2 separate regions of the Homo sapiens genome follow, and region 2 is linked to region 1. Evidence: fine-mapped QTL for protein levels in blood plasma. A gene starts in region 1. The other region holds a variant in brackets. All regions are shown on one strand. Distances are from middle to middle. Region 1 holds the start of ENTPD5 (ectonucleoside triphosphate diphosphohydrolase 5 (inactive)). Region 2 holds the start of LOC105370564 (a long non-coding RNA gene).

What was found. PIP is the chance, under the fine-mapping model, that this variant and not a neighbour inherited with it causes the effect. The UK Biobank Pharma Proteomics Project read protein levels with antibody pairs (Olink). The fine-mapping took linkage between variants from a reference panel, not from the people measured, so its PIPs are less certain.
Region 2: its variant is fine-mapped to the plasma level of the ENTPD5 protein (UK Biobank, PIP above 0.99).

Annotation. Positions count from the first base shown.
Region 1 is chr14:74,012,669-74,028,958 of GRCh38, reverse strand. It overlaps ENTPD5 (ectonucleoside triphosphate diphosphohydrolase 5 (inactive)), which reads left to right and starts at 9,671. Exons shown (of 16, transcript NM_001249.5): 1 at 9,671-9,709; 2 at 13,029-13,135. BBOF1 (basal body orientation factor 1) reads right to left here and starts at 9,610. Exons shown (of 12, transcript NM_025057.3): 1 at 9,425-9,610; 2 at 5,815-6,043. The coding sequence starts at 9,480. RefSeq lists enhancers at 6,859-7,153, 6,919-7,213 and silencers at 9,494-9,743, 9,774-9,843, 9,854-9,993, 10,034-10,103, 10,019-10,313.
Region 2 is chr14:74,202,603-74,218,892 of GRCh38, reverse strand. It overlaps LOC105370564 (a long non-coding RNA gene), which reads left to right and starts at 1,129. Exons shown (of 3, transcript XR_944025.3): 1 at 1,129-1,313; 2 at 4,136-4,247; 3 at 9,942-10,032. The variant GTC/C (reference allele first, on the strand shown) is at 7,827.

The DNA of each region.
Region 1 (16,290 bases):
TGTGTGTGTGGTTAAAAATAAAAGCAACATTAATACCAGCCTGACCAACATGGAGAAACCCCTTCTCTACTAAAACTATGAAATTAGCCAGGCGTGGTGGCACATGCCTGTAATCCCAGCTACTCAGGAGGCTGAGGCAGGAGAATCACTTGAACCTGGGAGGCAGAGGTTGCAGTGAGCCGAGATGGCGTCATTGCACTCCAGCCCGGGTGACAGAGCAAGACTCTGTCTAAAAAAAAAAAAAAAATAGAGATGGAGTCTTGCCATGTTGCTCAGGCTGGTCTCAAAGTCATGGGCTCAAGTGATCCCCCTGCCTTGGCCTAAGTGCTGGGATTATAGGTGTGAGCCATAGCGCCTAGCCAAGATGAGTTTCAAGAAGAGTACAAAAAATTCCCATACTATTCACCCATATACATTAATTTTGCCGCATTTGCTTTCCCTCTATTTGTGTGTGTGTGTGTGTGTGTGTGTGTGTGTGTGTGTGTGTGTGTATTTCTTTAGTGGTAAAGGGTAATGTCAATTTCAAGATGACCTTTTACCCCAGAAGACTTCAGTATCTATTTCCTTATTTGTTTTTCTTTCTTTTTTTTGAGACAGAGTCTCACTCTGTCGCCCAGGCTGGACTGCAGTGGTGCAATCTTGGCTCACAGCAACCTATGCCTCCTGGGCTAAAGCAATTCTCCTGCCTCTGCCTCCCAAGTACCTGGGACTATAGGCATGCGCCACCACACTTGGCTAATTTTTTGTATTTTTTGTAGAGACAGGGTTTCACCATGTTGGCCAGGCTGGTCTCGAACTTCTGACCTCAGGTGATCCACCAGCCTCAGCCTCCCAAAGTGCTGGGATTACAGGCATGAGCCACTGTGCCTGGCCTTTCAGTATCTATTTTTGAAGAAAAAGGGCATTCCCTTTTACAAGCACTATAAAATTATAAAGATCAGGAAGTCTAACATTAATATACTACTATGTAATATATACTCTATATTTAAATTCTGCTACAATTATCCCAATAATGTCCTTTATTGCAATTTTTTATTTTTCTTGTCTACAATACAACCCTTGATCATGCGTTGCATTTATCTGTCATGTGTCTTAGTCCCCTTTAATCTGGAACAGTTTCTTGGTCTTTGTTTTTAAATTGACTTTTTAAAAAGAATACTGGCCAGGGTTGGGCTTAGCTGATGCTTCTTCATGAGTAGATTCAGGTTGTATGTTTTTGGTAGGTTATATATAGTACCTAAGTGATGATGTATCCTTTTCAGTACATCACATCATTAGGTGATTGATGCTAATTTTAACCAGTTGGTTAAGGTTGTGTCTGCCCACTTTCTCCACCTAAAAGTTATTATTTTTTCTTCTGTGATTATTAAGTAATTTGTGGTACAATCTTTTGAGACTATGCAATTATCCTCCTCATCAAACTTTCACCCAGTAGGTTTTAGCATCCATTGATGATTCTTGACTGATTCAGTTATTACTGTGATGCCAAATGGTGATTTTTCTAACTCCATCACTCCTTGGAAATTTATTAATTGGCATTCTTCTGCAAAAAAAAAAAAAAAAAAAAAAAAAAGCTGGGCGAGGTGGCTCATGGCTGTAATCCCAACACTTTGGGAAGCTGAGGCGGGTAGATCACCTGAGGTCAGGAGTTCGAGACCAACCTGGCCAGCACAGTGAAACCCCGTCTTTACTACAAACACAAAAATTAGCCAGGCGGGGTGGTGGCACAACTGTAGTCTCAGCTACTCAGGATGCTGAGGCAGGAGAATCCTTTGCAGTGATCCTTTGAGGTTGCAGTGAGCCAAGATCGCACCACTGCACTCCAGCCTGGGTGACAGAGCGAGACTCTGTCTCAAAAAAAAAAAAAAAAAAAAAAGGCTTCCTTTCTCCCTTATTTATTCATGTATGTGTTTATTAGTAGTACACACTCGTGGATTTTTATTTCATTCAATAGGTTATAATCTATTACTGTTGTTATTTATTAGGTCAGTGCAAAAGCAACTGCAGTTTTTGCCATTTTTTTTTTTTCCTTTTGAGATGGAGTCTCACTCTGTCCCTGAGGGTGGAGTGCAGTGGCGCAATCTCAGCTCACTGCAACCTCCACCTCCTGGGTTCAAGCGATTCTCCTGTCTCAGCTTCCTGAGTAGCTGGGATTACAGGTGCACACTACCACACCCGGCTAATTTTTGTATTTTTAGTAGAGACAGGGTTCTGCCATGTTGGCCAGTCTAGTCTTGAACTCCTGACCTCAGGTGATCTGCCCACCTCGGCCTCCCAAAGTTCTGGGATTACAGGTGTGAGCCACTGCACCCAGCCATTTTTGCTATTATTTATTAGGTTGGTGCAAAAGCAATTGTGGTTTTTGCCATTCTTTTAATGCACCAACCTAATATTTTGATTGTCCCAGATTTGGCCAATGGAAGCCCCTTCAAACAAGGCCATGTCCTTTAAAATTTTTTATTTTCTGGCACAATAACATATTCCAGACTCTTTTTTTTTTTTTTTTTTTTTTTTGAGATGGAGTTTCACTCTTGTTGCCCAGGCTGGAGTGCAAAATGGCATGATCTTGGCTCACTGCAACCTCCGCCTCCTGTGTTCAAATGATTCTCCTGCCTCAGCCTCCTGAGTAGCTGGAATTACAGGTGCCCACCACCACACCTGGCTAATTTTTGTATTTTCAGTAGAGATGGGGTTTCGTCATGTTGGCCAGGCTGGTCTCAAACTGCTGACCTCAGTAATCCACCCGCCTTGGACTCCCAAAGTGCTGGGATTACAGGCATGAGCCACCGCCCCCAGTCTCTCTCTTTTTTTTTTTTTTGAGACAGAGTCTCACTCTGTTGCCCAGGCTTGACTGCAGTGGCACAATCTTGGCTCACTGCAACCTCTGCCACCTGGGTTCAAGCAATTCTCGTGCCTCAACCTCCCAAGCAGCTGGGACTGCAGACACGCACCACCATGCCTAGCTAATTCTTTGTATTTCTAGTAGAGATGGGGTTTCACTCTGTTGGCCAGGATGGTCTCAAACTCCTGGCCTCATGTGATGCACCCCCCCCACCCCGCCACTCAGCCTCCCAAAGTGCTGGGATTACAGGCATGGGCCACCATGAACAGCCCAGCCTCATGTTTTATATTCCCTGTTCCAGTCCTGAAATCAACCATTTCTCCAAGGAATGCTGGTTTGTTTTAGAAGGGAATCTGAGTAGCTTTTTAAACTAAAGACTTGTTGACATGGTTGTTGACACAAGTGAGATACTATGTACAATGTTTTAGACCACCTTAGGAAAAAATCTAGATATTCTAAAAAATAAACTGGGACAATCCTAAATCACATAAAACTGGTGTGACATTTAATGAGATTATTCTGTGATTAATTCAGTACAGCATTAAATTCTCTTAAGGGGAATCTCCTAATTTTGTTCATAATAAAATAGTTTTCAAAACACATTTCATTTCTATTATTTCTATAATTAACATGACTATAAACAGTTTAAACAAAGTTTAACAACATAACATTTTTCTAGTATATAGCAAAATGAGTAACAAAACTATGGGAAAGCTAGTTAATGAGGATATATTTAGTCTACTTTGTTTCTTCCTCCCAAGGTTGTTTCTTTTGGTTTAATGGCAATCCATGATTATAAAAATTACCCACCTGTTACTGCCAGATGCTGCCCTTTGATATAAGGAGGCAGATGAGAATCAGGAAGTACAAGTGATACTGATGTAGACCAATAACAATGAGCTATTACAAGCCACAAAACAAAGCATCTAAGTAACACATTTGGAAATTATTTCTATGGTTGACTAAAAAAACTTACTTTAGAACAATACTTTATAGAGGGCAATTTAATAATACCTACTATTAAAAGAGTAATTTTAAAAATAAAAATTGGCCAGGTTTTGTGGCTCATGCATGTAATCCCAACACTTTGGGAGGGTGAGGTGGGCGGATCACTCAAGGCCAGGAGTTCCAGATCAGCCTGGCCAACAACATGCCAAAACCCCGTCCCTACTAAAAATACAAAAAATAAAATAAAATAAAGATAGAAATTTCTGGACCAGGTGCTATTGCTCATGCCTGTAATGTCAGCACTTTGGGAGGCTAAGTTGGGAGGATTTCTTGAGCCCAGGAGTTCGAGGCTAGCCTGGGCGACATGGCGAAATCCCATCTCCACAAAAACTACAAAAAAATCAGCCAGGCATGGTGGCTCATGCTTGCAATCCCAGCACTTTGGGAGGCCAACGCGGGTGGATCACTTGAGCTCAGGAGTTCAAGACCAGCCTGGGCAACATGGCGAAACCCTGTCTCTACCAAAAATACAAAAAATTAGCCAGGCATGGAGGTGCGTGCCTGTAGTCCCAGCTACTTGGAAGACTGAGGCAGGAGGATCATCTGAGCCCGGATGTCGATCCTGTGGTGAGCCGTGATCATACCACTGCACTCTAGACCAGGCAATAGAGAGAGACCCTGTCTCAAAAATAATAATAAAGTAATAATAATATGAGACAGAGTTTTGCTCTGATGTCCAGGTTGGACTGCCGTGACATGACCATGGCTCACTGCAGCTTCAACTTCCTGGGCTTAAGTGATCCTCCCGCCTTAGCCTCCCGAGTAGCTGGGACTACAGGTGCACACTGCCACGCCTGGCTATTTTTTACTTTGTGTAGAGACTGGGTCTTGCTTTGTTCCCCAGGCTGGTCCTGAACTCCTAAGCTAAGTTATCCTCCAGCCTCTTCCTCCCAAAGTGTTGGGATTATAGGCATGAGCTACCACACCCAGCCTGAATTTCCACTTTTAACACCCACTAGGGGTGTGACTTTGGGCAAGTTACCTGTCCTTTCTGAAAGTCAATTTCTTCATCTGTAATATGGAAATAACAATATTATAGCTACATGGGGTCATAAAAATAATTAAATAGGAGGTTAGTAAAAGAATCAAGAGAGGTAAAGCACCCAGTATAGTACATTGTAGTGGCTCCAAAATGTTAGTTCCCTTCCCTTTTTCTTTTCTTTTCTTTTTTTTTTTTTTTTTTGAGATGGAGTCTCTCGCTCTGTCGCCCAGGCTGCCAGGCTGGAGTGTAATGGTATGATCTCAGCTCGCTGCAACCTCTGCCTCCCGGGTTCAAGCAATTCTCCTGCCTCAGCCTCCCGAGTAGCTGGGACTATAGGCACATGCAGCCATGCCCGGTTAATTTTTTGTATTTTAGTAGAGACGGGGTTTCACTGTGTTGCCCAGGCTGGTCACGAACTCCTGGGCTCAGGCAATCTGCCCACCTCAGCCTCCCAAAGTGGTGGGATTACAGGCGTGAGCCACCACACCCGGCCTCCTTTTTTCTTCCAAATATAAAATGATAGCTTTACTCTCAACACTTTAATAAGGTACAATAAGATACAAGATTCAACTGGCCAAAAATAAAAATAAAGATTCAACTTGCTGGGTTCAGAAAGTTATCATGGATTATCAGTGAACTGCTTTACAAATTTTTAAAACTAAAAATCAGCATCAAAAAATATATAGATCACATACCATGCTCTTATCCTTAAAATAAAGTAGATCATAAAGTTCCCTTATGATCATCAATCTCTGTTTGCTTCAGACAAGAAAACATGCAACAAGGATTGAAAATAAAAGAGAGCCGATAACAGTAAAACCATTCTGAAAAAGTGTCTTGCTTCAAACAGAGTTAAGGTCAATTGAAATGTCTTAAGTATATGTTAAGATTTCAAGGAATTAAAAATCTTTGAAATACATAACCACATCAGCATCACCATAGAGGTAGTTAATGAGGCCAAGGAGGCTTTCTACCTACCTACCATATTATCTTTCTCCTGATCCTGCTTCTTCAGGTAACTTAATACTGACATTATGTCTTTCTCCATTTTACATTGCTTTTTCTTTAAGTCCTCATTACTTTTTGCCAGTATCCGTGAAGTATCACGATACTTAATCCTAGAGAGTTCTGTGACTTCCAACCTGGCCTCCCAAAGGGAGGCATTGGCCTTGGCTCTGTCCACCACAGATTCATCTGTTTTTATTAACTTCCTGCATGGGAAGAGGATATTGACAGTATATGACTATTTATACAACTCTAATATGCAGATAGTATATAACTCTATTATATTACTATTAAATTTTTCTCTTTTTTTATTTGTTTTGCTTGGCATTGCCTGGCACACATGATCAAATATTGTTGGAAGAATAAGTTAATAAGAAATACATATTCACATTTGAAAAAAGAAAAAAAAAGAAATACATATTCACTTGTATTCACATAAGATAATTAAGTAAGTGCCTCTTCCTGGAGGAGGGGAGTCCTGGAGCATAACTCGAAAAGACTGGTAAAACAAAGGGAAAAGACAGGATAAGCCAAACTCATTTCAGAAAGCTTTCATATCTTTTTTTTTTCTTTTTGAAACTGGGCCTGGCTGTGTCACCGGGCTGGAGTGCAGTAGCACGATCTCGGCTCCCCAGAACCTCTGCCTCTTGGGCTCAAGCCATCCACCCACCTCAGCCTCCCAAGTGGCTGGGACTACAGGTTCATGCAACTATGCCCAGCTAATTTTTGTACTTTTTGTAGAAATGAGTTTTTGCCATGTTGCCCAGGCTGGTCTTGAACTCCTGGGCTCAAGTGATCCTCCTACCTCAGCCTCCGAAAGTGCTGAGATTACAGGTGTGAGCCACTGCGCTTGGGCAGTTTTTATACCTTTTCATTTACTTATTTGATTCTCCCATATTTATTTTTTTTTTAATAGAGATGGGGTCCCACTATGTTGCCTATGCTGGTCTCCAACTTCTGGGCTCAAGTATCCTCCCACCTTGGCCTCTCAACGTGCTGAGATTACAGGTGTGAACCAGTGCCCTAGCCTGATTCTCCTGTAGTTAAACTATCTTTTCTATTCCTACTCACTCAGTGCTGGACTTTGGTTCTCTCCACTGCAAACCCATTATCTCTGTTCAGTTTCTGCATGATGATACCCATTGGTAGTATAACTGTGATCTCCCACCCACTTTACCCTCCACTTTTGAGTGTGTTTTTTTTTTTTCTGGGGGAGGGACGGAGTCTCACTCTTTCACCCAGGCTGAAGAGCAGTGGCGTGATCTCGGCTCACTGCAAGCTCCGCCTCCCAGGTTCATGCCATTCTCCTGCCTCAGCCTCCCGAGTAGCTGGGACTACAGGAGCCCGCCACCAGGCCCGGCTAATTTTTTGTATTTTCAGTAGAGACGGGGTTTCACCGTGTTAGCCAGGATGGTGTTTTTGTTTTGTTTTGTTTTGGGCTAGGTCTTGGACAAAAAGTCAAGTCACTAGGGCAAATACGTTAAATAGTTTATCAGCTGGTGCCACAGTTCACCGGACTTTTTTTTTTTTTTTGAAACAAGATCTTGCTCTGTCATCCAGGCTGTAGTGCAGTAGCACCATCACAGCTCACTGCAGCCTCAACCTCCCAGGCCCAAACGATCCTCCACCTCAGCCTCCTAAGTAACTGTGACTACAGGCATGAGTTAGCATGCCCAACTAATTTTTAATAAAAATTTTTGTAGAGACAGGGTCTTCCTATGTTGTTCAGGCTGGTCTTGAACTCCTGGGCTCAAGTGATCTTCCCCTGCTCAGCCTCCCAAAGTGCTGGGCATGAGCCACGATGCCCCACCCACCGGGCTTTAAGGATGCCTGAGAAACCATAATCATTTATATAGAGGTGGAGAGGAAAAAGGATGGATTCAAAGATTAAAGTGGTAAAGGAAGAGATTTTTCTAAATATTTATTGTATAAGCATTAACAAAACACTCCCCCTTATATATGGTAGGTACCATGATATATAAATATGTACATATTTAAGAATATTTCACCTGTATTTGAATTCTAAATATTTTCACACATATGTACATGTGGACCTTTCTATACTGCCACCCTCCACATCCACTTTCCTACCTCTGGTTCTCAGTCCTCTTCCACAGAGGTAATGGGTTTGCAGTGGAGAGAACCAAAGTCCCACTTTCACCTTTTGTTCTCTTCAAATTAAGGCCAGCTCCATTCCCAACCCCTCAGCCTGTTATAGCTGTTGATGTCCCTTTCTGGCATGATTTAGGCACTAGTGATACACTGTCTCACTACGACCATCCAGGTATCAGGTCTGAGTGGCTCGAAGTACTTGATGCGACAGGGCATGGTGGCTCACGGCTGTCATCCCAGCACTTTGGGAGGCCGAGGCGGGTGGATCACCTGAAGTCAGGAGTTCGAGACCAGCCTGGCCAACATGGTGAAACCCTGTCTCCACTAAAAATAAAAAAATTAGCTGGGCGTGGTGACGGGTGCCTGTAATCACAGCTACTCGGGAGGCTGAGGCAGGAGAATTGGTTGAACCCAGAAGGCAGAGGTTGCAGTGAGCTGAGATCGTGCCATTGCACTCCGGCTTGGGCAACAAGAGCAAAACTTGGTGTCAAGAAAAAAAAAAAAGTACTTGATGCAAGAAATTAGACACTCTAATAGGACCACTGATACTCACTGTAGAAACAAAGCCAGGTTTCTCAAACAATGGGTCATGGAAAATCCAAGGAATAAGGTCTCTTACCCTTAGTGTTCCTCATTGTTCAAATGTGTACTGTAGAAGCATGGTCAAAATCTGAAAACATATGTTAGTGAGTTCTAGGAATGTGATAAGCCCTTGGCACTTTAAGGGCTAGACTAACTGTGCAGTTATGTAAAAACAAAAAAAAAATACCATAAAAGAATACTTACATTAACAAATGGGAAGAAAAAAGCCACATATAAGTATGTACATTGGGCTATCGTTTTATTAAAAAAGAATACTCCAAAATATAGTAGTGTTTATTTTTGGATAATGAGACTACAGGTGATTTTTGTTTTTTCTTTTGGTACTTCCCATGTTTCCCAAACTTTCTGTATTGAGCATGAATTACTCTCTTAAGTTACTTTACAAACATCTCAAGTTTGGTGCCAACTCTGTGTTCCCATATATGGTGTTGTTGCTGGACACCACGTATGACTCCAACGTGTCCAGAAACCACCGGGGTCCCCCAATAGGGCTAGTAGCAATCTAGCAGCAACTCCAGGCCTGTAAGGGGTTAGTGCTAGAACATTACCCACCTCAGTGGCTCTGATCAGTTTGGGAAAACCTCAATAATTATCCAACTTGGTAAAATACTTTAGGTGTCCCCTTTGAACCAAAAGAGATCTCTGAAAAGGCCCAAGGAACTACTTTATACATCCTCTACACGTTTAAGATAATCTGAACACATAGTAGAGATCTGCCAGACTATGGACATGGGAGCTGTAATCCTCACAAGCCGGGAGAGCCGGGGAGAGGGTCCGAGTGGGCCGGCGCGGGGGGCGCCAGGTTGCCAGCCCCAGACCCGAAATCCCAGGCAGGCCCAGGGAGAGGGGACTCTCGGGTGGCTTCTCCTTACTTCGTGTCTTTGCCTTTGCTCTTGCCTTTCTTTTTGTCCTTTCCCTTCGACGGCATCTTGGCTTCCCCAGGGGCTCCGCTGTCGTAGTTGCCCAGCCGCGGCCGCCCTGGCCAGCTCTGTCTCCAAGGGAACCGGGACGCCGAGCTGGCAATGCCCCACCCGCGCCGCTGACGGCGCGCGGAGAGCGCACGCGCCCGTGACGTAGCCCAGGCGCCGCGGCGCGCGGGGTGGGGCGGAGGTCGCGCCGAGGGCGGCGGGCTGCCGCGCAAGGGTGGCGCGCGCGCGGTGAGTGTGCGAGTGTCGGCGGCGCCGGATCCTCTACGTGGGGCCCGGGCTCTGCGGGCGGGAGGCGGGAGCTGGCAGCCCCAGGCGGTAGCGCTTCGTCCTGCGGCCTGGGTGTGTCAGGAGTCGCTGCGGTCGGGGCGCCCTTGCCTCAGGAGACTTAGATCCCCGCTGATCCGCCCGTCCCGCCGCAGTGGTCTGAGCCGCAGCCCTTTCCCGTGCCGCCCGCGGGTCCCGTTCCTCCCGTGTCTCCATGCCGCAGCCAGCGTGGCCGCGGCTACCTTGCCCTCGCCCCCGCTCCGCTTCTGCCGCTCCCGGCACTGCCTTACTCCTTTGGGTTGCATCTCTTTCCTGGCTTTTCACCCTTGCTGATTCTGTAAGGGATAGTGCAGCCAGCGGACGTCCCAGGCCAAATGTTTTTTGATAGGCAGTCGAGGACTTTCCCGAGGGCGGTGGTTGAGGGCGAGGCTGCCAGCCTCCGAAGAGCAGCGGCACGCCAGGGAGCCGGGCGGGGAGGGGAGTGCTGCCACCGAGGTCGGGAGCAGGGTCCTCGGCCTCACTAGGTCCTGTGTGGCCGATACTTCCTGCCCACGACCGCCCCCCGGATTTCCATTTGCTAATACCGGTCCGCAGCCTTCTTTCCTGAAAGTTGCATAAAGTTGGAAGCTCTTCAACTTGCCTCCCCGACTCCTGAAATCCCGAATACACCTCTGAAAAGGAGTGTACTCACAAGTATTCTCATTTTTCAATGAGAGTCAGTCAGTGAGTCATTAAGGAAGGTACGGTATTCTGAGTGCCAAGCCAATAGTTAGGAGACTTGTGGTTGAAGCTCTGCTCTGTTATACTCCATTTCAAATTAAAAAGTTTATTTTAAATGTGGTTGTAGATCCTTCGTCACCATTTCTCTAGGGAGGACTTAATCCGTACACTCCTTCCCGATGTCTTTGACCTCTAATTACTCCCCTCCGCCTTGTTTCCCACTTGCATAGTTTCTGTTTCTGAATTTCTGTTTCTTCTGAGGGAACATGCCGATTTGGTAATGATAAGCCTTGTAAACTTTTTTTTTTTTTTTTCTGAGAGAGAGTCTTCTGTCACCCAGGCTGGAGTGCAGTGGGGCATCTCGGCTCCCTGCAACCTCCACCTCCTTGGTTCAAGCGATTCTCCTGCCTCAGCCTCCCCAGTAAGTGGGACTACAGGTGCATGCCACCACACCCGGCTAATTTTTGTATTTTTGGTAGAGATGGAGTTTCACCATGCTGGCCAGGCTGGTCTCGAACTCCTGGCCTCAGGTGATCCACCTGCCTCGGCCTCCCAAAGTGTTGAGATTACAGGCGTGGGCCACCGCCCCGGCTGTAAACCTTTTTTTTGAGACAAGAGTTTTGCTCTTGTTGCCTAGGCTGGAGTGCAATGGCGCAATCTCGGCTCACCACAACCTCTGCCTCCCGGGTTCAAGCAATTCTCCTGCCTCAGCCTCCCCAGTAACAGACTATAGGTGCGTGCCACCATGCCAGGCTAATTTTTGTATTTTTGGTAGAGACAGAGTTTCACCATGCTAGCCAGGCTGGTCTTGAACTCCTGGCCTCAGGTGATCCACCCGCCTTGGTCTCCCAAAGTGTTGAGATTTACAGGCATGAGCCACCGCCCCCGGCTGTAAAATTTTTTTTTTTTTTTTTTGAGACAGAGTTTTGCTCTTGTTGCCCAGGCTGGAGTGCAATGGCACGATCTCGGCTCACCGCAACCTCCACCTCCCAGTTCAAGCGATTCTCCTGCCTCAGCCTCCCGAGTAGCTGGGATTACAGGCACACACCACCATCCCTGGCTAATTTTGTATTTTTAGTAGAGACAGGGTTTCTCCATGTTGGTCAGGCTGGCGTAAACCTTATTATACATACCATCTGCCAGCATGATCATGGCTTTTTCTTTTCTTTTTTTTTGAGATGGAGTTTCGCTCTTGTTTCCCAGGCTGGAGTGCAATAGCACGATCTCGGCCCACCGCAGCCTCCACCTCCCAGGTTCAAGCAATTCTCCTGCCTCAGCCTCCCGAGTAGCTGGGAATCCAGGCATGCGCCACCATGCCCGGCTACTTTTGTAATTTTAGTAGACACGGGGTTTCTCCATTTTGGTCAGGCTAGTCTCGAACTTCCAACCTCAGGTGATCCGCCCGCCTCGGCCTACCAAAGTACTGGGATTACAGGCGTGAGCCACCACGCCTGGCCGATCATAGCTTTTTCTGAGTGTATTTCTGGTATACTTTCACACTCCCGTGAGTCCATAGGCGGAATCGCCATATATTGAAGAGTTTATCTCTGATGTAAAATCTATAAAGTTACCATTAATTTTGTATGTGTAAGGTTCTGAAAAAGCACACTGTTGATAAGCTGCAGAAAAGAGAGTAGGGCATCTTCTGTCACAGGCTGTATATTTGGAATTTATTCTAGAAATTGGTAACTTTATAATATGAAAGTCAGTCCAAGACTCCTCATTTGAACATAGGCTTACAGATTAATGTATGAACATAAAAATTTGACTATAACAAGATTATTAATGTATGCGTAGTACCTTAGTTATAGTACTTTATAGTTTCTTTTATTGGTTTTTGGGTTTTTTGATGGTTTTTTTGAGATAGGGTCTTACTCTTAACCATGCTGGAGTACAGTGGCAGGATCATGGCTCATTACAGCTTCGACCTCCTGGACTTAAGTGATCCTCCCACCTCAGCCTCTGGCATAGCTGGGACTGTAGGCATGCACCACCATGCCTGGCTAATTTTGTATTTTTTGTAGAGACAGGGTTTTGCCATGTTGCCTAGGCTGGTCTTGAACTCCTGAGCTCAGGTGATCCTCCTGCCTTGGCCTCCCAAAGTGCTGGGATTACAGGCATGAGTCGCCACACTTGGCCTAGTTTATTTTATTGTATTATATATATTTTTTATTGACTAAGTTTGATTTTGTAGATAAAGCTGTTGTGACATGAATATGGCTCAGGGAAATGCCAAGATTTCATACTCTGGTAGAGGTGGATATAGAGTCTACATTCTTCTGAATCCCCTCATTTTCTACCAAAGAACTGGATGTTGTTACTGTCATCTGCTGGTGAGCAACAACTGATAGTACAGATAGTAGAGTAGGAAGTTGCTATTTAGTAGTTTATCTGGTAGCATTTCCTTCCACAGTTACTGGTAGGTGCCTTTACTATGAAGTTCCAGGAATTATTACTAAATAAATTTTCCTTGTTTCATTGTTTAGAACACTAATGCTTTTAAACTTGGAATAAGCCACTTCATGTTTTGTTGACTTGGTTTTGTAATTCTTTTTCTGTCCAGTTTTCCTTGTTCCTGGTCAACAAAGAAATGTGGAGTGTCTTGGCTGAATCCTCATACAGACAAGATCATTATGGTGCTGTTAGGTAGGACTTGTATCCAGATGTAAGGTAATATCTCCACTAGCTTAAATTTATAAATGTATTTCAAATGTTCCTGAATGGTGGTTTTCTTTTTTTCCTGAATTTAATTCTCTGTTTTTTGCCAAGTGATGTTAATTTTGTCCAACAAGCCATATATAAAATTTAGAACTATTATGTATCAAAATAGATAGAATTTCTGGCTGGTCATGGTGGTTCATGCCTGTAATCCTAACACTTTGGGAGGCCAAGGCAGACGGATTGCTTAAGCCCAGGAGTTCAAGACCAGTCTGGACAACATGGCAAAACCCTGTCTTTACAAAAAATACAAAAATTAGCTGGGTGTGGTGGCCATGTACCTGTAGTTCCAGCTACTCAGGAGGCTGAGTTCAGAGGATCACCTGAGCCCAGGGAGATCATGGCTGCAGTGAGCCGTGCCACTGTATTCCAGCCTGAGCAATGGTGTGACTGTTTCTCAAAAAAAAAAGGGGGGGCGGGGGGTGGGTAGTACTTCTGCTTTTTTCTTCTAGTAGGTCCAAAACTGGGTTTACTTTATAAATTCATCTATAACTTTATTCGGGTTTACCTTAGAGGCCATGTTTCCCTTCATAAATCATTCTTGAGATCACCTTATAGCAGATGGTACTTTATAGGTGGATCAGTCTAAGTGAACAACTTTAGATTTTGTTTCTACATAGCCTTTAGAATCCTGAATAAATATATTATTATCCAAACTGTTTCTTATGGGAGTTACTTTCTTTTTTTTTTTTTTTGAGAGGTAGTCTTGCTCTGTCGCCCAGGCTGGAGTGCAGTGGCACAATCTTGTCTCACTTCAACTCTGCCTCCCAGGTTCAAGCAATTCTCCTGCCTCAGCCTCCCGAGTAGCTGGGATTACAGATGCCTGCCACCATGCCCGGCTAATTTTTGTATTTTAGTAGAGACAGGGTTTCACCCCCATGTTGGCCAGGCCGGTCTTGAACTCCTCACTTCAAGTGATCTGCCTGCCTCGGCTTCCCAAAGTGCTGAGATTACAGGCTTGAGCCACCACACCTGGCCAGGAGTTACTTTCATCCTGCTTTTTTATTGCATGTGCTGCAAATATAGAATTCTACTAAATTGACATTTTCTCGTGATATTAAGACTAGTTCACATCTCTGCAGGGGCATTTTAAGAAATCCTGGCGGTCAAGGATTTAATCTTATCACTTTTAGATAAATTTTTAAAAATTTAAAACATTCAATGTTTTACTTATATACAAGATATGTTACCACAGATAATTATTTGTTTATTTATTTGTTAATGAATGACAGGGTCTCACTATGTCACCCAGGCTGGAGTGCAGTGGTGCAATCATGACTCACTGCAGCCTTAACCTTCTGGGGTCAAGCAATTCTCCCATGTCAGTCTCCTGAGTAGCTAGGAGCACAGGCTTGTGCCACCATGCCCAGCTAACTTTTTTTTGTGGGGGGGGGGAGTAAAGACTGGATCTCACTCTGTTGCTACTGGGCTCAAATGGTTCTCCTACCTCAGGCCCCCAAAGTGCTGGAATTATAGTTGTGAGCCACTATGCTTGGCCATATATTTTTGAAATGGGGTTTTGTTATGTTGTCCAGGCTGAACTTAAGCTCCTGAGCTCAAGAGATCCTCCTACTTCAGCTTCCCAAGTAGTTGGGACTACAGGCGTGCACCACTATGCCTACAAATAATCATTAACTACTGTTCCTTTATTTGCAAAATATCCCATTTTTATTAGTTGTCCATCCCAACAGAGCCACAGACTAAAAGTTCTCTAAGAAAACTTACCTGGACTGGGCACAGTGACTCACATCTATAATCCTAGCATTTTGGGAGGCCGAGGTAGGAGGATTGCTTGAGCCTAGGATTTTGAGACCGGCCTGGACAACATAACAAGACCCTGTCTCTATTTTTTAAAAAAAGCAATGAAAAATTACCTAAGTTTTAGGCCCACTTGTCTGCATTTTTATGTCATGGATCTGTCAAATGTTCATTCATTTAAGAAACATTTAATGAATACCAACTGTATAACAGCCTGTCTGATAACTTCATGGGTACAGTAAGGAACAAGAGAAGGCCCTTGCCCTCAAATTGTTTACAGTCAGATGTATAAAGCTCTGACCTGGATGTTGATCTCTGAGAATATACAACCTTATTGTCACCCATACACAAACACTTAACAGTAAACAGTACCAAGCAGGGATTGATAAAGGAGAGATGGTGTAGACCAGGGGTGTTCAATCTTTTGGCTTCCTTGGGCTACATTGGAAGAAGAAGAATTGTCTTGGGTCACACATAAAATATACTAACACTAATGATGGCTGATGAGCTTAAAAAAAAATCACAAAAAAAGATCTCATAATATTTTAAGAAAGTTTACAAATTTGTGTTGGGCTGCATTCAAAACCATCCTGGGCTACATGCGGCCCATGGGCTGTGGGTTTTGACTAAGCTTGGCCCAAACCCTAGGTGCTATAGAATTTGGAGGCATTTAAGACTGTCGTAGTCAGGGAAAGTTTATAGAAGGAGATGGACTGAAAGGAGAGGGAAGTTCCTCTGGGAAGTTAGAACAATGTGAGCACAATTCAGAGTATGCTTAAAATAGGGAGTAGTTTAACTCTAGCATTGGTTCCTAAAGTGTGGTCCACAGACCGGTAACATCAGCTTCACCTGGTAACTTATTAGAACTACAGTTTCACAGGCCCCACCTGAGACCTACTGATTCAGAAATACTGGCAATGAGGCCCAGCAGTCTATGCCCTCCAGGTGGTTCTGATGCGTGCTAAAGTTTCAGAACCACTAGACTAGAGCAGAGGGTTATTGTATGGAACAAGTAGGCAAAACACTCTAAAAAGGTAGGCTGGGAACTCATTGTGAATGACTTAGAATGTCAGACAGGGAGTTTGTCTTTTATCCTGCAGACTAGAGGCCCCAGCTTGTGACTTGAGGGCTGGACTTGGCTCATAGAATGTGTTTCGTTTGGCCTGAATGGTAGGTTTTTGGGGGTTTTTAAATGGAATTAGTTGTCATCATTTAAAAATCAGCAGATTTTACAAAGAAATCTGTGCTTTCAGCTTACCTTGAAAAATCAGAAGACCTGGCAGTATGGAGCCTACATTCCATTATGGTAGCAGTTGGTGGGAATAGCAAGAAGCTGCCCCTTTAGATGG
Region 2 (16,290 bases), 190 kb before region 1:
TATACTGTGGACCCAAGCTCTCTCCTGCCAATTCCTTCAACAAAAACGATAACAAGCCCCAGAAGCCTGCTTAGAAAGGAACACGAGGCTCAGAAAACCTGGATCCCAGCCGGAGGCTATTTTGGGAAGGTGCCTTGGGGACTGGCAGGCAGGGTCAGGGATGGCAGGGAAGGTGGGTGAGAGAGGTTGGACCTCCACCCTTCTTGGCTGTCCCTTTGGGGCCCCAAGAATCAGGCACGATGGGCATTCATGGGCACAGGTGGTCTGACAGAGCTTGAGGGGCAAGGTCTGCCTGTGCCTGGGGCTGGCATGGGCTGGCAGGGAGGCCCTTGGACCATTCCCAGAGGGAGACAGGGGATTAAGGGGGGTTAGGGAGGTGGTCCCAGAGGGTCCATGCAGAGTAATGGGATTAGCTCTTGGGCAGTGAGTGAAAGTTATTATCGTGTGGGGCCTCTGGCCTCCCACCCAAGGCTGCAGCTGTCACCCATCCTGGGAGGCACCAACAGCCCCCTCCACCCCCACCTTGGGGCAGGCTGGCACCTCTTCTCCCCACAGGCTTTTCTGCTGTGGTCATCTGCCTAGGGGCTGGCCGCCTAGCTTTAGCCTCCTGTCGGTCCTTGGCAGACTGGGCCACCCACACAGTATGCTCTAGACTTGCTCTGTGCCTCGGTTTCCCCTTGAACAGAAAGATACAAGAAGGTGCTTGAGATCCTCTGAGGCATGGGGGTTCGGAGCCAGGCCCCCTGGGTTTCCGGCTCTGCCACGCATTCGCTGTGTGACCCTAGGTACATCTGTCAGCCTCTCTGTGTCCTAATTGGTAAAATGGGGGCAGTAGCAGAGCAGCGTTAGGGTTTTCATAGCGGAGGGCTGGGTAGGGAGCATAGGGTCGGCCTGTTGGTGCTGGGCACCTCCTAGAGGTCGGGGCCGCGGAGGGCTGCGGGCCTAGGGCCTAATGACAAGAAGGGACCAGTCTTGTCGGAGCCTCGCAGCCCCTGCGAGGCGGGTGAAAGGCAGCGCCTGAGCGAAGCCGCAAGCGGGAGACTTCGGAGACGCTCCCGGCTCCCTCTAGCGGTGGCCGCGCGAGTGGCGCGGCGCGAGCGCGATCCCCTCGGGGTGGGAGGAGACCAGAGAGGCAGGTGGCGGTTGCCGGTCCGGGAATCTGGGCCAGTCCGCCTTCCTCCAAGGCATCAGAGGGGAGGGATTTCAAGGGTCCTCAAAGGTTCCCCTTCTTAAGCAATGCATAGCACCCATCCTAGGAGCGTCCGTCCGTTCACTTGTATGTCTGTCCGAATGGAAGTGCCTCCTTGGGCCAGGTGCGGTGGCTCACGCCTATAATCCCAGCACTTTGGGAGGCCAAGGCGGGCAGATCACTTGAGGTCAGGAGTTGGAGACCAGCCTGGCCAACATGGTGAAACCTCGTCTCTACTAAAAAACAAAAAATTAGCCAGGCGTGGTGGCGCATGCCTGTAATCCCAGCTACTTGAGAGGCTGAGGCAGGAGAATCGCTTGAATCGGGGAGGCAGAGGTTGCAATGAGCTGAGGTAGCACCACTGCACTCCAGCCTGAGTGACAGAGTGAGACTCAACTATAAACAAACAAACAAACAAACAAATAAATAAAGGGCCTCCTTGGAGGCCCAACACATCAGGGACATCTCATCCACCGCTTACTCCTCCCAAGCCCAGCAGAGCAGGGAGGGTGGCGGAGCATTTGCCCAGTGTGCACGGCTAATGCCATCCCGTCCACGTGATCAAGTGGTACCTGGAAGAACCTGACAAGGCAGCTCCAGACTAAGGACAAGTCAACCCCTTTTCTAGCCTGTTTCCTCATGGTGAACTGACAGGGTGGGACTAGGTCAGTAGTTCCACCTTTTCACTCGGAAGAGCCCCATCACCCCGTTTTTTAGAGACAGGGTCTTGCTTTGTCACCCAGGCTGGAGTACAGTGGTGCCTCCACAGCTCACTGCAGCCTCGACCTCCTGGGCTCAAGTGATCCTCCTGCCTTGGCCTCCCAAAGTGCTGTGATTACCGGCGTAAGCCACCGCACCCGGCCCAGGGAGGCACTTCCATTCGGACAGACATACAAGCTAATGGACAGACGCTCCTAGGTGTGAGCCACTGCACCCGGCCAACTTTTACGTAATTTTAAAGAGAAGAAAAAAGTTCACATTCATGCAGTGGAATACTGTGCTGCTATTCCACATTCAATCTCCAAGACAGTATTTATTTATTTTTTTTTAGACGGAGTTTCGCTTTTGTTGCCCAGGCTGGAGTGCAATGGCGCAATCTCGGCTCACTGCAACCTCCACCTCCCGGGTTCAAGCTATTCTCCTGCCTTAGCTTCCTGAGTAGCTGGGATTACAGGCATGTGCCACCACGCCAGGCTAATTTTGTATTTTTAGTAGAGATGGGGTTTCTCCATGTTGGTCAGGCTGGTCTCGAACTCCTGACCTCAGGTGATCCACCCGCCTTGGCCTCCCAAAGTGCTGGGATTACAGGCATGAGCCACTGCGCCCGGCTGACGGTATTATTTTTAAAAAAGGAAGATGGACAGTACGTTTTATTTCACTTGTGAAAATGAAATATGTATATACATATAAATATTTTTTAATTTCTGGAAAAGTGTATGAAAAACTGGTTACTGGTTGGTTGTGGGAAACAGAATCAGATGGCTGGAGGGCAGGGGAGTGAGGGAAGCCTGTGGTTTCCTCTACACCCTTATTTTAGTTTAAAAAATTGTGTGTATATGTATTATCTATTTTGATAAATAATTCATTAAACATAACAGTATATACAGGTGTAACATATTCACGGAATCTCTTACCACTCCTGTCAGCACACAGTAGGCACTTAATAAGTGCTAGCTTTTTTTTGTTCTTTGTCTCTCCAGAGCATCCATTAATGATTTGTGTTCACCTGACCATCACCCCTTTACAGTGAGCTTAATTAGTAAGGTACAATGTTTGCTAAATGACCGAGACCAAGGAGAGGAAAGATGTTTCCAAGCTTTCATGGCGGCGAGGCTAAGGGTCTCTGTTACCACAGGAGATAGGGAAAGGTCTTCCTGTGCCAGGGCTGAAGTAGTGGGTACAGATTACAAGGGGCGGCTAGGGTGGGGTGAGGGGACAGATCTGGCATGGGAGTGGTGGCCTTTGACAGTCAGTGGGAGCGCAGAGCTGTCCAGGTGGCCCCCAGCCTCACCCTGCCCTGTGCCGAGGAGAGCGGGAACTCTGTTCAGCCTCCCAGGACCATGGCTGGGGGCATGAACTCAGTGCCCAGGGGCTGCCTGGAGACCCCCCTTGCTTTAGGCCCTGCAGTCCCAAGACCCAAGGGGCCCTCTTCTTCTTGGTCTCTAGTTAGAGAACTGTGGTCTTCTCATCTGGTGAGCTCCATATGGCACCAAGGGCACTTTGTGAGTGGGGCTCTGATCCCTGGAAGGTGCTGGGCGATGGGGAGGGAGTGGAGAGGAAGTGGTAGCCAGATAGCCCGGCATCCAGCAACCGTGCGTCCTAGCAGCCCATTCACATTTTTCTTTTCTCTTTCCTGTTTTTTTTTTTTTTTTTTTTGAGACAGTCTCACTCTGTTGTCCAGGCTGGAGTGCAGTGGCACGATCTCAGCTCACTGCAACCTCTGTTTCCCAGGTTCAAGCGATTCTTCTGCCTCAGCGTCCTGCGTAGCTGGGATTACAGGCACCCGCCACCTGGCTAATTTTTGTATTTTTAGTAGAAACAGGGTTTCTCCATGTTGGCCAGGCTGGTCTCGAACTCCTGATCTCAGGTGATCCACTCGCCTCGGCCTCCCAAAGTGCTGGGATTACAGCCATGAGCCACCACGCCTGGCCAGCCCACTCACATTTTTCAAGGGTGCACTACAGGCTTGAGGCCCGGGGGCTCAGAATTTGGGGATACAATACAGCTTCAGCAGTTGTTAGGTGAGGTGGCCCTGGGTCTTAAACCACCCATGTCCACTGTTGCCACTAGTAAAGACATTGAACATTTACCATGTGGCAGGTGCTCCACAAGCATGATCCTACTGAACCCTCACAAAGACCCAGGACAGTGTTTAGAACAAAAAAAATTTTCTTCCCAGGGATGGAAACTGTGGCTCAAAAACATTGTCTCTTTCTGGGTTCACAGAACTCACAAGTGGCCAGGCCAGCATTGGAAGCCAGCTCTGCCTGCCCGCACAGGCCTGGACGCCCAGCCACAACCTGGTGTCCCCTCTGCCCAGCTCTCGCCTTGGCTCTCAGTAAGTGCCTGGAGCTGGTCACCACGCCTTGAAGCTCCGCCCTTCTCCGTGGCCTCCAGTTCCTACCGCCCCACTGCCCCAAAGCTGTCTCACCTGCCTCTAGGCTCTGTACCTCCCTTCCAGTCCACTCAGCTTCCCAGGAGGTCCCCAAGTACCCCAGTGTCTGGGGACAGTGGTGGGCAGAGGGCCCCAGGGCCTCTCAGCTGGGCCCATGGCTGAGCGCTGTGGGGAGGCGGGCGCAGTGCACAGAGCTGATCCTAACCAAGTTTGCCAGCCCAGCTTTTCTCATGGCTCTCACACAATGGTCTGCTTTGTGCCCACCTGCCGATAATGCTTAATTAGGCGAGGAGGTGATTAATTTGAGGTAATTGACAGCTAATTAGAGGCCCACAGGCTCATTAACTTGACATCTTGTCTTCGTGAATTGGCTGAGTAGGGTCAGGTGATGCAAGCCGCTGCTTCTCCCTCCCCAGCTCTCCCGGCCCCTGTAGGCTGAGGCGATCACCTAGGGGAGGGCTGGGCCGACCCAGGAGTTCAGGTGGGGCAGTCCCAAGGCCAAGAGTAGAGGAAGCCAAGGCAGTGAGGGAGGAAGGGTCCGGATGGAGGTGTCTGCCCTGACCTTAAGAGGGAGAGAGTGGGCAGGGAGTGAGGGCTTGTGGGTACTTCAGCAAAGACACGTAAGAGAAGTGGGGTATTAACAGGGCCGGAGGGCGGGAGGGAGAGCTGGTGTCCATGAAGGGAGGAGGGATGAGGGGAAGCAGGTGAGTGGGGCAGCCTGTTGGAACTAAGCATAGGCTGTGAGGTGACACAGACCTGGGGCTGGATCCTAGCTCTGCTACTAACCAGCTAGGTGACTGTGAACCAGTGATTTAATCGCTAAACCTCAGGCTTCTCCGCTGTAGAATGGGAATAATAATGGTACCTGCCTCAGGAGGTTGTCATGAAGAGTCCATGAAGCACCGAAGTAAAGGACAAATCTGTGAATTGAATGAGCAGGGTCAGGCTGAGCAGGATTTGTACCCGGGGGCCTGATGAGTGCTCAATCAAATGTTAACTAGTCCATTAAAATTTTTTAAAATAAAAAGTTAACTATTCTTGGTGGCAGGAAGGAGTGACAAGAAGAGAGAGTGATTGGGTGGAATGGGCCCCAGTGCTGTGGGGAGGCAATGGCAACCCCCTCCCAAGATAAGCCACCGTTACCCTGCAGGACACCTGCAGGCCTGATCACAGTGGCCTGGTGGAAGGTGTGGGGAAAAGACCTTCTTGTTGTTGCCATCTCTTTTGGGCACGGGGCATGCAATTCAGCAATATATATTAAAGTTTAAAATGCATGTGGTCTTTGACCCAGCAATTCCCCTGCTAGTGATATATCCACAGATACCTAAACACAAGGGTATCTGCTCATCACCACATAGTTCGTAGTAGCAGAAGACAGGAAATGACCTGAATGTCCATCACAGGGCCTGGCTAGGTAACTGAAGGCACATCCATATAGTGGAATAGTATGTAGCTGTTACATCTCTAGGTACCAATATGAACAAGATCCAAGATAAAAAAAAAAGCAAGCTGCAGAACAGGTGTAGTTTCCACAAGCTGTTAACTAGTGGTCTGAGGGTTATGGGATGGCAAGAAGATGTATTTTTTCATAATCTGTTCATTTTAAATATAGTTTGTATTTACTACCTTTTCAAAAAGTATTTAAAAAGTCATACTTTTTTTTCCCAAATGAAATCTAACTTGAAATCTGAATTTATAGGCAAAGTGCCTCTGGTTGAACTGGGGGTGGGGGCCCAGTCCTACCCACCTATTTCCTTCCTCCCCTCCGCTACAGGCTCCAAGAGGATCACCTGGAATCCATCATTGTCCACTGGAACTTTCTATGATGATGGAAATGCATGCAGTTCTGCACTGTCGAATACAGTGGTAGTCAGTAGCCATAAGTGGCTACTGAGCACTCAAAATGTGCCTAGCGCAACTAAGAAACTGAATTTATTTTATTTTATTTTATTTTAAAAATAAAGGCTAGTCTCAAACTCCCAACCGCAGGTAATCTGCCCGCCTCAGTCTCCCAAAGTGCTGGGATCACAGGTGTGAGCCACTGCGCCCGGCCTGAAGATCCTTTCTAACAGAATCAGAATTGCACTGATCGGAAGCATGTCAGAGATGCTGGTAGCTCTCTTGGAATCCCAGTTATTTTAGGAAGGAGTGCCTGAATGATCCATGAGTGAAAAAGCCTATCTTTGGCTTTAAGATCAGTGGCCAGTTCCATCTGGGAAGAATTTAAGTGATGAGTTAGGTCACTGGAGGCATCCATTTGGCAACTGTACAATGAACATCTATGATAGGTCAGGCTCTGGAGAAACAGAAACACACATCTGGTCCTCGCTCTTGAGGAGCCCCCAGTCTGGGGACTGATTTCTCAGTAAAGGGTGGGTAGACAAAGGTGCTCCCTCGAAGGAGAGCCCAAGGGTGCAGCATCTGGGCTTGGAGTTTGACTGACAGCCCTCCCCCACATTGAGGTCACGGTGAGTGAGGGCACAGGACAGGGCCCTCCAGCCCTTATGCTCAGTCACTGGTGGAGCATGAGTGGCAGCTGCCAAAGGGACATGTTGACCATCTTCTGTCCTTCTTTCTGACTTCATAGCTTTGAACCCAGGGTGAGTCTGGGATCCTCTAGATTCCCCTATGCTATTGCCCCAAATAGCTTCCATGGGGTGGTTTGAAACATAAAAACCATCAGCTTTCATCAACACTTCCCTCTAGAGGCTCAGAGAACCTTAATTTCTTTTAAGGCACAGCTTACCTAAAGTGTGCAGCCACTAACTGCACAGCTCGATGAATGTTTACACACATACCCTCCTGTGTTAACCAGCACTCAGATCAAGACAGAGAATATTTCCAAAACCCCAGAAGGCTCCCCGGGCCCCTTTTCAGTTAATACCTCCAAGGTTACTACTATTTAGACTTCTATCACATAGATTAGTTCTGCCTGTTCTAGAATTTCATACAGATGGAGTCATACGGTATGTGCCCTTCATTCGTGTTTGGGAGATTCATCCATATTACTGTGTGAAGCGGCATGGTAGTTTGTTCATTCTTTATTGCCAGTTGGCATTCCACATAGAATATACAATCTATCCATTCTCCTGCTGATGGCCTTTGTTCCCCAGTTTTTTACTTGAATGAATAAAGTTGCTATTGTTTTCACACGTGTCTTTTGGTGTCAACTCATTTTTGTTGGGTATAAGTGGAATAGGCAAAGGTATATTCTTTGAATTCTTTTTTTTTTTTTTTTTTTTGAGACAGTCTCACTCTGTTGCCCAGGCTGGAGTGCAGTAGCACAATCATGACTTTCTGCAGCCTCAAACTCCTGGGTTCAAGTGGTTCTCCTGCCTCTGCCTCCCAAGTAGCTGGGACTACAGGTGTGCACCACCATGCCTGACTAATTTAATTTTGGAGAGATGAGGTTTCACTATATTGCCCAGGCTGGTCTTGAACTCCTGGCCCCAAGTGATCCTCCTGCCTCAACTTCCCAAGGTAATGGGATTACAGGTGTGAGCATCATGCTTGCCACCCCCT[GTC/C]TTTTTTTTTGACAGCGTCTCACTCTGTGGCCCAGGCTGGAGTGCAATGCTGCCACCATAGCTCACTGCAGCCTTGAACTCCTGGGCTCAAGCCATCCTTCCGGCACTGCCTCCTGAGCAGCAGGGACTACAGGGATGTACCACTGCGCTGGCTAATTTTATTTAATTAAAAACATTTTTTTTGTAGAGATGGGGTCTCACTATGTTGCCCAAGCTAGTCTCTAGCTCCTGGACTCAAGTAATCCTCCTGCCTCAGCCTCCCAACATGCCGGGATTACTGGTGTGAACCAACGCATCTGGGACACTTGATCCTTTCGACAACCTGGTGAAGTAGTTATTTTCCCCCTTTAACGGAAAAGGAAACTAAGTTCAATAAGGGTAACAATCCTATCCAAGGCCACACCCCAAAGCTATTAAGTAGCAGAAACCACATTAAAACTAGAGTGATCAACGGTCACATGGTCAAGACTGTTATTCCTCCCAGGAAACCCCTGAGTTCCAAGCAAATCAGACGGCTAGTCACCCCAATTCAAACCCGACTGGACTCAAAAATGGAGCTTTTTTTTTGTTTTTTGTTTTTGTTTTTGAGATGGAGTCTCGCTCTGTCACCCAGGCTGGAGTGCAGTGGTGCGATCTCAGCTCATTACAAGCTCCGTCTCCCGGGTTCACGTCATTCTCCTGCCTCAGCCTCCCGAGTAGCTGGGACTACAGGTGCCTGCCACCACGCCCGGCTAATTTTTTGTATTTTTAGTAGAGACGGGGTTTCACTGTGTTAGCCAGGATGGTCTCGATCTCCTGACCTTGTGATCCACCCACCTCAGCCTCCCAAAGTGCTGGGATTACAGGCATGAGCCACCGTGCCCGGCCCCAAAAGTGAGCTCTTAATCATCAGGCTGGGATTTCCTCTGGCCTAAAATTTCACCAGACAGCACATGGTGTTAACATAGACTCAAGGCAGAATATTTTGTCTTCAAAACACTCTTGTGATATAAGGATTTTACTTGTTTTTGTTTTATTTTGAAGAAAGTGATTTCATTTAAAGTAGATCTGAGTTAGGTAAGAATAAAATTATTTATATGAAAAGAATTTTCTAACACATTAATCCATCAAACAAGGATTTATTCAGCACCCATGAGCTGAAAAGAAGTTTAAGGCAGTCCTTGACTTCAAGAAATTAATCATTTACTTAGGGAGCTAAGAGTAAAGCTTAAGGAATAAAATTAGAGGATAATAAACAGTAATAATAATCACCCCATATGTGAGTACTTACTGTGCCCAAGGGGCTTTACCGAGTCTAATTTAATCTTTACAACACAGCTGTGAGATATGTTCTGCTGTTATGCTCATTTCAGACGAGGAAACCAAGACTTGGTGAAGTGAAGTGATTTGGTCAAGGAAAAAAATCATTGAGCTGTTCACTTAAGATTTGTAGATTTAATATAAATGAGTTACGCTCTGATAAATCTTTATTGAATGGGAAACCCTTGAAAATACGGACATTTTTTGCTTTCTCTGCTCTTGAATTTCCTATTCCCCAATAATTTAGTGCAAAATGTTAAAGATGTATTTTGGCTTGTTTCATTTTAGGAAAATAGCAGGTCGGGTCAAAATGGCGCTTTTAGCCTTAATGGCTTGGGTGCAAATAGGCATAGCTTGTGACTGTGAAATCAGAGGTCCTGGGTTGCAGAGGGGTCCTGGAGCTGACACAGGCCAATGGGCCAGTACAACCTGCTTGGTTCCCCAGCTGCATGAACTGTTGGCCCCATGGTCAGTCCTGACCAGAAATGCACAAGGGTATTTGTCCCCTGGGTCCTCAAGGTCAGCTCCTCTGTCTCCCTCCAACACACCCCAAACCTTATCATATCCCTCAACCTCCTGACCCTGCCACCCATCTCTGCTTTTCAGGTTTGCAGGCCCCCACCCAGAGGCACCTTCATCATTCCTCCCTGACGTGTCGACTTTCATTTTCCTAGGACGAGTCTCATTTGACAGTCTCCTGCCCATATTTCTAAGCTCTCTGGGTCTCGTTGTGCTATTTCTCTGTCCTCTCTGGGGTTTGTAACACCAATCATCTGCAGGTTTCATTAGCATGCTGTTTACCCCTGTCTTTCAGATCATTAATGAAGATGTGAAGTGAGACACCAATCCTCACAGCCCCCACCACGTGCTCCCTCCCATGCCTGGCGCTGCTGGAGTCATTATCCTTCCTGGTGTGACAGGGTCAGAACCAAACCAATTTGCATCAGTCTTTGGTGATGTTGTGAAGCGTCGCCTGCCCTGCAATCCTGCTGCTGTAACAACTGCTTCAGCTGTCTGTTCTGGAGTGCTCTTCGCTCCTTTGGAAGACTGATCAGATCTGGCCACCCCAGTTCTGGCTGAAAGCCCTAGAGCGACCGCAATGGTAGGGCAGGATTCAGGGCTACACATGGCTGACATTGTTCCTTCTTCGTTTTGCTCTTCTGAGCTGGACAGAAAGCAGTCCCTCTTTGGAAAACAGGATGGACAAGTGCATACATTAGTGGAGGACGCAGCAGATGTGGCAGGCATAGAATTTTACTCATTGCTCCATCTATTTCTATCAAGGAAAATGGGGAGTGCTCCCAATTTCCGCCCATTTTCTAGCCCAGGCCTAGTCAGATGTGTGGGCTTGTATATTCTGGGAACCTGGGGCTGATGTGGTCAAGTCACTTCTTGGGGACAAGGTCAATTCTTCTCCATTTTCTCATGTCATTTGGTCCTGAGGGTTTTATATCTTCTTTAGCAATTCCATGACTATGCTTCTCATCCTGCAGGGAAACTGACTTTATATACACACTTGTCTCCCAATAAAAGTGAGAACCACCTCCTACATATCCCTTGTGTCTTCCAGACTCCAACTCAGATGAAATGCACTTCCTTCTCTTTCCTGATTGTGCAGCGCCTCCAACTGGTTGTTTGTGATGAAAACATGAGTATAATTACAGACTCTTCTCTGACCCATTTCTACTCCTGACCCCCAACTCATCTTTTCTTCCTTCTCTCCAATTGGGAAGGGGAAGGGAAGCAAGGAGAAAGTAGCGAAGGAAACTCTCGCAAACACATCTGAAGTAAGATGCTGCATGTCCAAGAGCTGGGGGAAACTTAACGCTACGACTCTACAGCAAAGTTAGGTGAGACATATTTTCTCAGGGTAGGTAAGGAAAGACTGAGGAAAAAGATAGCTATTTGGCAACACTGAACACCTACTGACTGAATGATTTTTTTCTGCTCCTGGGCAAAGGCTCTGAGGAGTGTGGGGAGAGATGGGACTGTCATGAATAGGGAACAAGTTTTTTTTTTCCACATTACATGCAATGAGGTAGAGATCCTAGGGTATAGCTGGATGCTTATTAGGTGCTCAGTAAACACTTATTGGTGTACAGATTGATATACATTTGCATACTAAAGAACAAATTTCATTACCATATACAAAGGTTATCGATGAACTATGTATGTATGCACATGTGTGCAGGATAACAGGCTGAGCTGAGAAGCAGGGCTTTTAAAATCTGTATATCCGGCCCCAGAGGCTTTTTTCTCCCTGTATTATAAAATCAATACCTGTTTCCGTAGAGAGTTTGGAAAATGTAGAAGAAAACAACAATACCCCATATTCCTCCAACCAGGCAGCAAGCACTATTACCACCTTCGCCTATTGCCTTCCATTCACCACCCCACTGTAATTGTTATATCTGGCCATTTCACTTATCCTTATGACAAAACCATTTCTTCCATGATATCATAACCTCTTTGCAAACACACCAAATGGCTGCATGGCAGTTCGCTACGGGAATGTACCATGATTTACTCAACAGCTGCACATCTGAACAGCCTTTGGGCCACTTGAAGGCAGAGGCAGCAGCAGCAGAGGTGGATGGCGGGAAGTAGGAGGCCAAGGTGAAGCAGCTCGCAGGACCTTGCTTCCCCATGAGCCCCCCGACCACCATTCCTCAGAGATCATTTCTGGTTCCAATCCTCACATATCCTTCATGGGTCCTGCCACAGCCAGCACTTCTCATTTCTACTCAGCCTCAAGTCACTGACTTTCCCAACTTGACTCTTCTCAGCTGCTCCTTTGTGTGAAGTCACTGGCTCAGGCCAGCTTGGCTCCTGGGGCTTGGCTGCGTCCAGAAAGGCCCTGGGATGTGACCTTCAGCCTCGCTTGACCCTGAGGCCTCAGGCTGCAGTCAGGCGAGGGTCTCTCCATGGGCTCCCAGAGAAGGCAAAGCCCAGAGGAGGCTGCTGCGGGAGCAGAAGCCTGAGTGGACCCTGCTTAGTCCTGGAAAGGGACCTGACAGGTTTGCGAGAACCTGACAAATCTCACACCATAGAAAACTATCTGGCCCAGGCACAGTGGCTCATCCCAATACTTTGGGAGGCGGAGGTGGGCGGATCACTTGAGCCCAGGAGTTCGAGACCAGCCTGGGCAACATGGCGAAACCCCATCTCTGCAAAAAATACAAAAATTAGCCAGATGTGGTGGCACGTGCTTGTGGTCCCAACTACTTTGGAGGCTGAGGCAGGAGGACTGCTTGAGCCCAGAAGGCAGAGGTTGCAGCGAGCTGAGATCGTGCCACTGCACTCTAGCCTTGGTGACAGAGGGAGACCCTGTCTCACCAAAAAAAGGAAGGAAGGAAGGGAGGGAGGGAGGGAGGCAGGGAGGGGGGAGGGGGAGGAGTGGGGGAAGGAGGGAAGGGAAGGGAAGGGAAAGGAAAAAGAAAACTATCTGGAGGAATGTGGAGGACTGGTGGGTTAGGGGTAGGAGGTTATGACTGAATCAAACAGGGAAGTGTGTTCCTGTGCAGTGATTGGAAAAGCATGGATGCTCAGAAAATACTAGGACTACAAAGATTAGCAAAGTACAGTGATTTGAGGCTTATGTATGCCAAGTTCAGTATCAGTTCAGAAACTTGCCAATGTCACAAAGTATACCTTTCCCTCCCTTGCTTAATGCCACTGTCTGTAGAGTCAACAATGGTTTCTACTGAGTGTCCATGCTGGCACAGGGCCTCAGTGGGTGGAAGGATGGGGGTAGGAGAAATAGTAAACTGTCAGCTCTTCTGAAGGGTTACAGAAATGGTATTCTGCTTAACTGACTAGTCAAGGTAACCAGAAGTTACTATATTTTCCCTATAGGGATTGCCAATGTTTTTTTTGTTTGTCGTTTGTTTTTGTGTGAGACAGTCTCACTCTGTCACCCAGTGTGGAGTGCAGTGGTGCAATCTCAGATCACTGCAACTTCTGCCTCCCAGGTTCAAGCAATTCCCTTCCCTCAGCCTCCTGAGTAGCTGGGAGTACAGGCACCTGCCACCCTGCACAGCTAAATTTTTTTGTATTTTTTCATTTTTTTTTTATAGTAGAGACGGGGTTTTGCCATGTTGGCCAGGCTGGTCTTGAACTCCTGACTTCAAGTGATCCACCCGCCTCAGCCTCCCAAAGTGCTGGGATTACAGGTGTGAGCCACCATGTCCGGCCTAGGGATTGTCAATTTTTAACAAATGTGAGTATAATAAAAAATTAAATACTACATGGAATCTGTTTTATAGATCTATCCATCAAGCAATTATATACGTAATGGGTAAGATATGCCATGCACCATTCTCAACACTTTGCAATACTCGTTTAATCTCTACAGCTACCCTAGTAGTTAGGTGCTATTTGCACCCAGGCAGCCTGACTTCAGAGCCTGTGCCCTTATCCATGATGCTGATATGACTCTTTAAAGTGGAAAAAGTCCTAAGGAAACCAAGGCTTAGAGAGAAGTAACTTACACAAGATCACCCCTGCCTCTCTCTCAAAATCCAAGCACTTACTATATCTTAGACCAGCAATGAGGCTATGAACACCGAATGTCAAGGCACAGTTCATTCTTTCAACAAATGCTTATTTTAGCACCTATTATGTGCCAGGTAGTTCTGTTTATAACCAAAGAAACTGTAGGAAATTGAACAAATTTGGATCAATTCTTTGGCATGTCCCAAAAGTTATTTTTAAAAGTCAAATCTTATCATTATCCTCTCTGTGCCTCAGAAAACTGAAGGTAGAAAAACAATGCAACTCTGATTACTTGAGTTTTTTGGCTCCTCAGATTCTACATAACTGAATCTCCTTTGGTATTGGAGGTCACTTTCAGAAACATCAGGTATAGAGATCGAGACAGAAAGCAGAGGGCAAGAGAGAGATGAAAATATGTGAGCCCAATTCTGCTCCGAACTTGGGTTTAATTGAGATTCCAACTGCCACTCTCCCCTGCATTCCTTTGTCCCTGGCTATGACCAAGTTTACGGCTGTATCGCCCCAAGTAATCCCCGTAATGGGCTGCAATCCTGGGGGAGCTGTTTTTGTTCATTAAGTGACCAACCTCTGAGCCACATGGAGCGCGGCCAGTTACAGCTTCTTGCCCTGGCAGATGGGCCACTTTTCTGTTTTAAAAAAACAGGGATCTTTCAGGAGAGAGGAGATAGTAGGCAGGGGTTGGGGACACAATCAGGGACATAAAGGTGATGGGTGCTAGAAATGAAGGCCAGAGTGAGGGGGGCAGTGGGTGCCCCTTCCAGGTCATGCAGTCTTCTAGGGCAGAATTCACTCACGTGCTGTGTGTTAGCTTTCTTTGCAATGGTAACTATAGTTGTGTAGGGCTTACAGTTTGTGAAGGGCTCAATGTAGTTCCTGGAGTGATGCTACCAGTCTGCAGAGGTGGGAGGAGTGAGGGGGCCATAGACAGGAGGCAGCGAATGAACAGAGTAGGGCAAATAGCTGAGAGGGGGCTTCCCCTGAGGGTCAGAAATTCTCAGTGCTTCAGACTCCAGCTCAAGTGACAGGGGCCAGGCTGTGCCAAGAGCAGTTCTCTCAAGCCAACTGACTCTTACCTCTCTGCCCACAGCCCCAGTGTCTGCTTCTTGAAGTTGGGGAAACATTGCAGCAGCTGCTTGTTGGGAGACCCGTCCCCTCACTGCACTGCCCCACCCCCTCCCCGCCACCTGCCCCACCACCCCATGTCTGTCCTCTGGGTAGAGTTGTGTGAAGCGGAAGACAATTTGGGGCTTATTAGTGTCCCAGGGAGACATGTAACTTGTGTTGCTGGGACCCAAACAGCAAGAGTCTTAGCGGCAAACTCCAGCCGAGAAAAGACTGAGGAATTGTCTCACCTAATTACAGGGAATGGCCCTCTTTGTGTTTGTGATTCGGTACGGTTGTCCGATCGCTTTTGATCGCTTTTCTCTATTTGCTGGCTCAGGCCATGCTGGAATTGTGCTAATTAGAAGAGAAATGGACAGAGTGATCCTGTCAGCCCTGGTTACTGGTGGGGACAAAGCAGAATATTATTCTGAGGCAGTGTTTTGTGAGGGCCCTTCTTCCAGCTCTCATTAGGAGGAAGGGGCCCACAGGAGGGGAAGGTTCCAAATGCCTGGCCCAGCTAATGGAGCACTGGGGTGTTTCTGTGCTAATTAACAGGCTTTGCCAGCACTCACGCCAACCAGGAGCCTCACAGTTACACCTGGTATCGTCTGAAGCCCCCAGCTGCTCGAGAGGAAAAAGCGCCAGGCAAAGGGTGGGAAGGCCAGTGGCCTCTTTAGGCATAGACAAGGACACACACCCCAAATGCCAAAAAGCCTACATAGATAGGAAAAATCAGTTCCAGTCCATCAGAACTTACAACCGTGGAGACACCACCCTTTGCCACTCTCTGGGGTTGGGGGTTGCAAGACTCTCTGGTGAAACAAAGCCCACATAGGGACCAGGTATCCTTGTAGCTCTCACGAGATGAAGAAAACAGAAAATGGAGAACATAACCAAATTCTTGGAGACGGAGTTAGTGCAGAAGCTGAGAACTGGTAAGAGACTGTGTTATTTGGCTTCTGCGACCATCCACCTTGGCCCAACTGTCCATTTCCTCACTTCCTGCTCTGCCTGTTCACCTTCTTGTGATGTCTTAATCCTGGAGGAAACAGGAGGGGTCAGGGAATCCCACTGGAAATGAAATTTCTCGGCTTCATTTCAAAGCTCCTGTGGAAGTCCAAACACACTTCTGAAGCCACAGGGACAAGGGAATGACTTTCATCAGTTCCATTTTCACTGCCTTGATCTGGGAGCATCCAGAAGAGCAGCTAGAGAACTAAAACCACGGAGCAGTTAGCAAGCATCCATTTAAAAAATATGACAAAAATGGAAAGATAAAAATGAATGATGGCATTTCAATATCAACACAATTAATACCCTGTGAACTTTAAGTGTTCTAACCTATGGAAGGCAGGCCAAGCAAATCAGCAGAGGCCTAGAATCTGTGAGACTGAAGACAGCAAGAAATAATGAGAGTGCTGGTAAGAAAAAAATGTCAATAAGAATTTGCAAATGTGTCTCCAAGCTCCAATACTATGCTTTTCAGAATGTTGCTGCTCACAGCTGACAGATGCTTTACAGGATGGTATTTGGAATGGCAAAGG